3 separate regions of the Homo sapiens genome follow, and all the other regions are linked to region 2. The links come from fine-mapping of genetic effects on gene expression. A gene starts in region 2. Each other region holds a variant in brackets. All regions are shown on one strand. Distances are between the middles of the regions. Region 1 overlaps PKIA (cAMP-dependent protein kinase inhibitor alpha). Region 2 holds the start of PKIA (cAMP-dependent protein kinase inhibitor alpha). Region 3 overlaps PKIA (cAMP-dependent protein kinase inhibitor alpha).

The links.
Region 1: its variant is fine-mapped to the expression of PKIA in whole blood (INTERVAL, PIP 0.93).
Region 3: its variant is fine-mapped to the expression of PKIA in tibial nerve (GTEx, PIP above 0.99).

Annotation. Positions count from the first base shown.
Region 1 is chr8:78,559,561-78,562,328 of GRCh38, reverse strand. All of the region lies in intron 1 of PKIA (cAMP-dependent protein kinase inhibitor alpha), which reads right to left. The region is part of intron 2 of LOC105375911 (a long non-coding RNA gene); the gene reads left to right. Among named protein-coding and RNA genes, the nearest start is that of PKIA-AS1, 2.4 kb to the right of the region's middle. The variant G/A (reference allele first, on the strand shown) is at 1,531.
Region 2 is chr8:78,514,777-78,517,499 of GRCh38, reverse strand. It overlaps PKIA (cAMP-dependent protein kinase inhibitor alpha), which reads right to left and starts at 1,160. Exons shown (of 4, transcript NM_006823.4): 1 at 1,032-1,160. The region is part of intron 2 of LOC105375911 (a long non-coding RNA gene); the gene reads left to right. RefSeq lists an enhancer at 486-595 and a silencer at 916-1,215.
Region 3 is chr8:78,555,362-78,558,129 of GRCh38, reverse strand. All of the region lies in intron 1 of PKIA (cAMP-dependent protein kinase inhibitor alpha), which reads right to left. PKIA-AS1 (PKIA antisense RNA 1) reads left to right here. Exons shown (of 3, transcript NR_125389.1): 2 at 1,531-1,631. The region is part of intron 2 of LOC105375911 (a long non-coding RNA gene); the gene reads left to right. Among named protein-coding and RNA genes, the nearest start is that of PKIA-AS1, 1.8 kb to the left of the region's middle. The variant C/G (reference allele first, on the strand shown) is at 1,575.

The DNA.
Region 1 (2,768 bases), 45 kb before region 2:
TGAAGTGTGGGCTTAATGATAACAAATTTTTTAAGAGCCCAAGAAGCTAAAAAATGACTAGTTCACTGATGATTACCATTAGTCCCAACTAGACTATATTAATATAAGCTTGGTGACCCTGGGATCCTGAGACATATTTTGTTAGGAAAACTCAACTATTTTCAAACTAGCATGATTTCAACAATTGCTAATATTTTTTGGGGTTTCAGAACTATTATTTTATTAACTGGAGGCTCGATAAGAGGTTTTATGTAGAAAAAGGGTAGATAGTTGGCTTCTGTCTATTCTCCCTTTCAGTGGGAGAAGTGATGGTTAAGGGTGATTACTCTGCTGTTGGTGCATTGCCTAAGTTTTAGAACTAATTCAAGCCAGTAAATATTTGCTGAAGAACTATTATATGTTAGAAGGGAGCTGAGAATGGGGATACAAAGAGGATAATTAATAATAGAGCAGCTATTACTAACAAGAGGCAGGTACTGTGCAATGCTTAACGTGCATTATCCCATGTTACATGAATTTACACATTAACCCTGTGAGGTAGGTGTATTTATTATCCTCTTTTCCTGAGAAAACAGATGCTTTTCAAAACATTAAGTGATTTATCTAAGGTTACATAGCTAGTCAGAGATGGAAGCAGTATTTGGACTCAGAAAGTTTGACATCAGTACCAACCACTGTGCTCTACTGACTACAATGGCCCTACTTGAGAAGTTCAAAATCATACATACGTGGGTACAACTGACCCTAAGACTGCCTGGCACAAACTTTGTGGGACAGGCTAGATTTATGTGAGATGTACTTGAAGTGGAGAAGATTGTGACAGAGAGTCACTAAAATATGCTTCCTGTACTAGGAGAAAAAAAAAAACAAAAAAACTTGGCCTAGCCTAGAGCAGTGGGGTAGGCTAATTACATGATGTTGAGGAGGAAGAAGGAGCATTTCTGTCTTTTTTCTTGTCTTATAATTGATTAAATTATATCTGTGTCACGATATCAGAAACAAATTACAGTATAATGGACAGTTTTTGAACCCATCTTAGCTTGTATCCTGGTATATGTAGAGTGTTAGACCAACAGTGGCACCTATATGTAGTTAAATACATTTTAATTTATCTTTAGCCTGAAAGGAAAATAGTTTCTTATATGTATAATTTGGGAGTGTCTTCAGAAAAAATACTTAAAGCCCCCTATCTCAGAGGAAGGCAAATTCGCAAAAGATCTACCAGCAGATGCAAGTCCAAACACACTAATCATTTAGTGAGATTTGTACTGATATACCACGTCTCATGTTGTTTATTTATGGATTTTTCTGGAAGAAGGCTCATAGAGCTCATATATTCTCAAAGAGGTAAAGACCCATGCTGATAAGGTAGAAAGATCTTTGCTCTGGAATTAAATCAGTTTAGGTTTTGCAGCTTACTAGAATTAGGTAACATTCTTAATCTTCCTGAGCCTGGTTTCTATCTACCAATAGAGATAACACTAACACAGAGGGATGTGGTTAAATTAAATGACTCAGATAAAATGTTAT[G/A]TATCTTTTCAGGCTATCCTGTTAGGACATGCCCAGTAAATGTTAAGCCATCAGCAAATACTCTGCTTCCTTGACATGAATGAAGCCCATTCTCATGTTCTTCATGGTTTTCCTCGGCCATTGGTCTAAATATCAAGGCCATAGTTAAAAATTATCCCTGTCCCTTCACAGTCCATCTGCTTCCCCAAAGTATTCTCCTTGATGAATTGAGTCCCAATATTAGTAATATTCATCACTTTAGTTATTAATGTTCATATGTTTAAGATATTTTAATGTAAGGTAAATCATTACTCAAGAGAATAGCTAAGCTGGCTTTGTCAAAGATTTCAATGAGCTACCAGTACATCTTAATCAGAATTAACTTTCAAAGACAGGGAGAGCAATGATTCAAGGTGTGAATAGAAAAACGTTTTCTTTTTGTACAAAATGTTACTGTCATTTGTTCTGGTGGGGAAAAAGCTTAGAGTTAACCTAATTTACATTTTATGATTAGTTTAAAGAAAGTGTTATATAAATTTAGAATGAAAATAAATCAGTTTTCTTTAAACAGAAATGCAGATTTAAAAATGTCTTTTTATGCAACTGCCAGAAGGAAGCACTGTTTTGTCTGCAAATTCCCAGATTCTGCTCTAGTTTTAAAGGCTAACGACTGTGAAATGCAAATATAATCAGGGTTCCAGATGTGGCAATCAGGAAATGATTTGTGTACCAGCTATTTTTAACAAAAGGCTTGCAAACATGATAAATGAATAGTGAAAGTCAAAATGATATCAAATATGCATGAAAGTAGCATATATATAATTATAAATTACCTTTAGGAATTAATTATAACATTACTTCAGAGAGATTCGTATGATTTATTCCTATGGAGAATGTAGAGTCAGATGATCTAGGTTATCACTTTGGGACTAGGATATCACCAAAAATCTTTATGTTACAACATATGTGATAGAAATGAACACAATTTTACAGGAAGAACTAATCAGATGAATTCAGATTTCATTTGTACTTTGGTATAAATAGATCAAACTGGGTTTTCTCAACTAGATGTATAATAACTACAGATAAAAAGAACTATGCTGGTTTGCCAGAATGTAAAACACTGGCGAAAGTGAGGGGGCTGTATCAATGAGCTCGGGAAAGCAGCTCCATAGCCTCTATCTCCATCACACAGACATTTAGTTCAGATTTGAAAGAGAACTTGAGATCAGTCATTTCAACACATCTCCAAACCAGTT
Region 2 (2,723 bases):
GTCCCAAATCTTAACAGCTAGCTGTCTCAAAATCCAACTGGACTAAAATTGCTTCAAGAAAAACTGGATGGACTGGCATTCACATTTTTACTTCTACCTATGCCTATGCATAGGGAACATCCCTCACACTCCAGTAGATTCTATCTGTCCTCTCTAGCTTTCAAGTAGCCACAGTGACTACAGCGAAGGGAGTTAATGGGATAACATGTTGGTACAGGGCCACAAGCAGGATATTTCATTCCATGCATTTGGGGGAAGGACACAGGTAACAGTATACAGGGAGAATACCGAATAAGAAATCTGTGTGAGGCAATGCCCTTTTTGGGACCTTGACAAAATCAGTCATGGAACCCAGGTGGTGGATAAGAGCTGACGAGAGTTGGTCTGTGAATGGGCACAGCATCTCCGAAAAAGATCAATGAAATGATTGACAGAGAAAATGGCAATTGAAGGAAGAAGCGATGTCAAGTGCTGCTCAACCCAAGCTGAACTCCAGGAGATAAGAGAAGTTTCCCCTCCAGATAGAGGCTCTTTCTAAAGGTTCAGTCTTGAAGCAGGTGTTTTGCCATTGAGAGGGGCACAGACCCATTCTGATAACTGGAAAGGGAGAGGACCAAGGACTACAGGAAGAGGGACGATTTCTGATTACCTCAGGCTGCTGCCAGGGACCTACTGCTCCAAATCCTCAAAATACTCAAGCGAAGGTAAAAGGCACAGAAAGCAAAAGAGTAACTCAAATTATTTTAAATTTTGAGTCCTCTTCACTGTCTACGCGAATCTGGCACTGAAATGGTAGATCACGTTCAAAAGAGTATAGAGGCAAGAACGCCTTCTTTGTTTGCCCAGTAACACTGCTCCTCCAACCTCTGCACTTGGCCGCCCAACATTTCCATCCTAGTTGTTGCTCCTTTTCTCATTGCAGAATGCAGCGGGGTTCTCCCCTTCTTCCCTCCGTGCTGCAAACCCCATTATTAACCAAGCGGAAAGCTCCACGCAGTGCGGCCAGGGCGCACCGGTGCCGGGCTGCTTACCTTCCCCGGACCTAGTCAGCGCAGGTCCCCGCGCACGCCGCCACGGGCCGCAGTCCCGCCGCGCCCGCCGAGTGCTCGGTCAGCTCGCGCCGGCCCGCGCCCCACCTGCCAGCAGCAGCCTCCGCTCCCGCCGCGGAGCTCCGGCTGCATGAAGTCATCCCCGCCCCGGGACGGATCACCACATTCCGCGCCAGCCACGGGGGGAGCGGGGCCGCTCCCGACCCCAGGGAAGGCAGCCTGGAAACGGCGCTCGACGATCGCTGCCCCGCGAGGTTGTGGATTGATTTTCTATTAATGCTTTTACAGCTGCAGCATCGCTGGATTATGGATTGAGAGAGAAGAGCCAGGGGGGCTTTCTCTGCATAGCGTCCTTCCTCCGAGCGCTCCCCCGTCACCCCGGCTGCATGGACTGTTCCATTTGCCCCTGTGGGTTTCCCACCCTCTTCATCTTCCTTATCAGCATTGTTCATTTGGCTGAATTTGAGAGCAGGAATTGTCTTTTAAGATAAACATTCAAGCACTACAAAAACATTTTAAATTGGTAATGAAGCTTTCTAAGCCCTTCATAGCTCTCTCCATCACCCCCGCCCCCGCCAACAGACACACACGCAAACACACACACACACGCACACACGCGCGCACACACACGTATGCACACAGCCAAACCACTCACAATTTTGAAAGCTAGAACCTTTCGCCCTCTCACCTACGTAATAGAACGGGAATCTCCTAAAAGACTGGAGAAGTGGGGCCAACCAGAGAAAGCGCTCAAAGAAACAGTGGGGTGGCCCCATGATTTTGTTGTGTTTATGGTGCACTTGTGCACAGATGTTCCCTCTAACATCTCTTCCTCCTACTTCCTTTGCTCTGGACCCCCTCCCCTCCCTGCCACATAATTGGGCAAACTGTTGTGGTGACAGCTGTAACATTTGGGAATCAAAAAGCAGAGTCTACATTAGCAAATGACTATCTCTCTTTCCCTAAGGATTTATGAAAATTTGCTTTGGGAATGAAATAAGCATGTATTCATATAAGCCCTTTCCTTCTCTTTTTAAATTAACACTAGCTGTTAACAAGACTGTTCTCTCTCCCCCACCCTCCCGTTTTGCTTCTTTCCCAAATCTCTTCAGGTTTGAGGGTTGAATGTTTAAGGAAAAATGGGACTAAATTTGCTCTCTTTGTAGCTGAGCCAGGGTTTCCGCCTAGCTGTTGAGTCATTTTCCAGTCGGGAGGTTCCTTGACACTAGGGTTCTGTGGAATGGAGTTCCCTCTTTTAACTTGCCTTGCTGTTTGAATTGACCGTCACTTGATACAGGCCAGCTTTACACTATGGATTTGTCCAGCAACCTAAACAGTGCAATTGCACAAGGCCAGGGAAGCACCTTTGCTAAATGAGATGTTTCCATCCATCTATCAGTCCCAAAGTTAGGTGATAATGTAGCCAACAGCTTTCCAACAAAACTTAGTTAGAATTCTTGGTCATAGAATATATGCTCTTTGAAAGCTAGAACAGCTTAATTCATCGCTCTGAGACTCACTTTCATAACATTAGCCCGTTAATATTACCATAGAGCAGGAGATTCTTAATCTGTATAAATGGAATTCTATTCATATACTCCTTTTATACAGATTAAGTATAATGGGAAAAATCTCATTTTTAGTTTCACTAACTTCTAACTGAAATTTAGCATT
Region 3 (2,768 bases), 41 kb before region 2:
TTTAATGTAAAATATTAGATAATTTGATTTTGTTTTGAGAATCTGACAACTCACTCTGACTGCTCTGCATCCCCTTACTAAAACAACTGTAAACAGCATTTTGCATGTAATTTCAGATTTTTGCTACTACAAAACCAGTTAGTGGAAAAAAGACATCTTAGAGTCTAATTTACATTTATAATTAGCTTAAAACAAAGTGTCACATAAATTTACAAAACCAAATAGTTGGTACAAACAAATCAGACAAAATGTTACAGGGAAACACAGACTACCATCCCGGAGAAGGACAAGCAACATTGTACTACTGTCAAAATTTGGATCAAAACTATGTCTCTGCCAGGTTTCACTTTAACTGGAATTGAAGTTCCTGACATAGCTGTCCCCATCACAGGCATAAATACCCATCAAATAAACTGCAGTTGAACAGCCTCAGTCCCTTTTCTATAAAATGGGTATTTAATAATACCATTTTGACAAGAGCCTTATGAATATTAAGAGAACATAAATAAACTCCCCTAGCAGCTGACAGCCAAGTAATTAATCTTTCAGCCATTTCCTTTCTCTTTTTCCTTTTTTTCCCATGTTCTGAGTTCTTTTACACTTCATGTCCCACAATGCTGAAGTAATTGAAATGCTTTTACTCAGATAATCTCATACAACTTCTAGCATAATAAACAAGGAAAGTTTAATGCATTATTGTTTAAACAATGTCATTATTCTTTTTGGTAACCTGATTTTTCCAAATATGTAACTCTTTGATTCTCCTATAATATAGTATGTCTTATCCATGGGCACAAATTGAGTGTGTGTCAGAAATATTAAGTCCCTGGAAAACTACCAGTGGTGCCATTTTGGGTTCTATTTATATGTTAACAGCTTCCCTAAAACCAAGTTATTATCATTTCTACTCTTCTTCTGTTTTAATGCCCTCAAAATGTGGCTTCTAATTAGTAATTATATTAATTGGCGTCACATTCATTCTTGTTTGCTTTTTTCCTGATCATAACAAGAATTATCTGACTGTGAAGTTGGTGAGATGGGCTTTCTGATAAGGAAGGTTAGGAGGAAAAAAATGACAAGTAGGGTAACATATGCACATACAAAATTAGAGGAAGCTTCAGCAGTAACAAAATAGTGAGAGTCAATTAGTAGGAAGATTTTGTCATGTGTTGCCATTAATTGACCAACTAGAGTAATTAGACTCACAAATAACAGAAAGCAAAGAGTGGCAAATCTATCGTTCCTGCCAGCTTCTTCTGCTAGTCATCAGAACAATTATCTTCTAGTTTATGAAAGGATAAAGATGTAGTATTCAAATTTAAATGTTACCAATATAAGATATGGAGATATGTGAAACCTACTATAGTATCTTCATAAACATAGTTTTATAGCATCATAAATTTCACAGTAAAATTATCCATGAGAAATGTAAAACTCAAACAAAGTTCAGTAATATTTTAAATCTCAAAAATTAAAAAGAATTGCTGACTGTGTCTTGGCACACTTTTCTGTGTTTGTGAAATATGTTAGAGCCAGCCTGTTTTTGATGAAGAGCAACTGTACTGGAGAGAAAG[C/G]CTGTATTCATATTCATCGTCATCAGGCAAATCGAGGAGCTGACTTGCTTAGGATCAGTAAGTGCTTTTTTCCTCACTTCTTAACAAAGAACAGAACATTGTGTAAAAAAAAACAAAATCCCATTTTTGTTAAAAATAATAGTAAACAATGGAATGTTAGATAATTGATTTTTTTACTTCCCATATAAAATGATCAATAACTACTACTAAATACTAATTCGTAGTTGTATTAATTGGCATCACATTTATTCTTGCTTGCATTTTCCCTGATCGTAACAAGAATGATCTGACTGTAAAGTTAGTGAAACAAGATTACATGGGCAAGTAGATACTGACTCATGTAAATAACAGTGAGTCATGTTTGGCTGCCTGATTCTGTTAAAAGAAAAATGCATCCATATTCATTCAAAGCAAATGTTCTTTTGGTAACTGAATAAAAAGAATAGGTAGTAAGATCAATTTCTTTTAATTTACATAACTGCTAAACATAAAAGGAAAGGACAAAGGAAACAAACTGTGCTTTCTATCATATTTTATTTTTTTGCTCAACTACTGCCAACATTCTTAACTGATAGTATTACCTGTTTGTGTCCTTTCAGACCAAACCCCTTTACCCACCAGTGCCATAAAACAAAATCATAGTGTTGGGAGACATTTCAAGAAAGTCATTGCTATTGATTTGTCCCTCAAATATGACTTAATATAGCAATAGAATGATTTTGAAGTTAATAGTTTCTTTTCAGTGCATTAATAACTTTAGCAGTTTTAAATGTCTTTTTCTAGAGTGGTTTCTATACAAACACTCTCTCACACACACACATTGACACTCACTTTCCTTTTGTAATTATACACTCAATTCTTCTTGCATTCACCAACACCAAGGCTGCTTTATCCAACTCCTTCTCACTGTTGGCCAGTTTGAGATCAGAAAACAGGGATCAATTTTAATGTTCTCTTCAATAGACCTACATTGTATTTATGAACTAAGAAGTGATTTTTATTTTTGTTTTCCTATATTTTGAGCCTTTTGAATGACTACTTCTCTCCAACTATATGGCTTATAAGATGAGTCTTGTAACTGGGAGAAGCCAAAAAGTTCTGATGCCTAGCAGACTCTTGTCTCTTTGCCTGAGAACCTCAATCCTTTAGCCTTTCTTTTCTATTGAAATTCAAATATCTGTACTTTAAGATCTT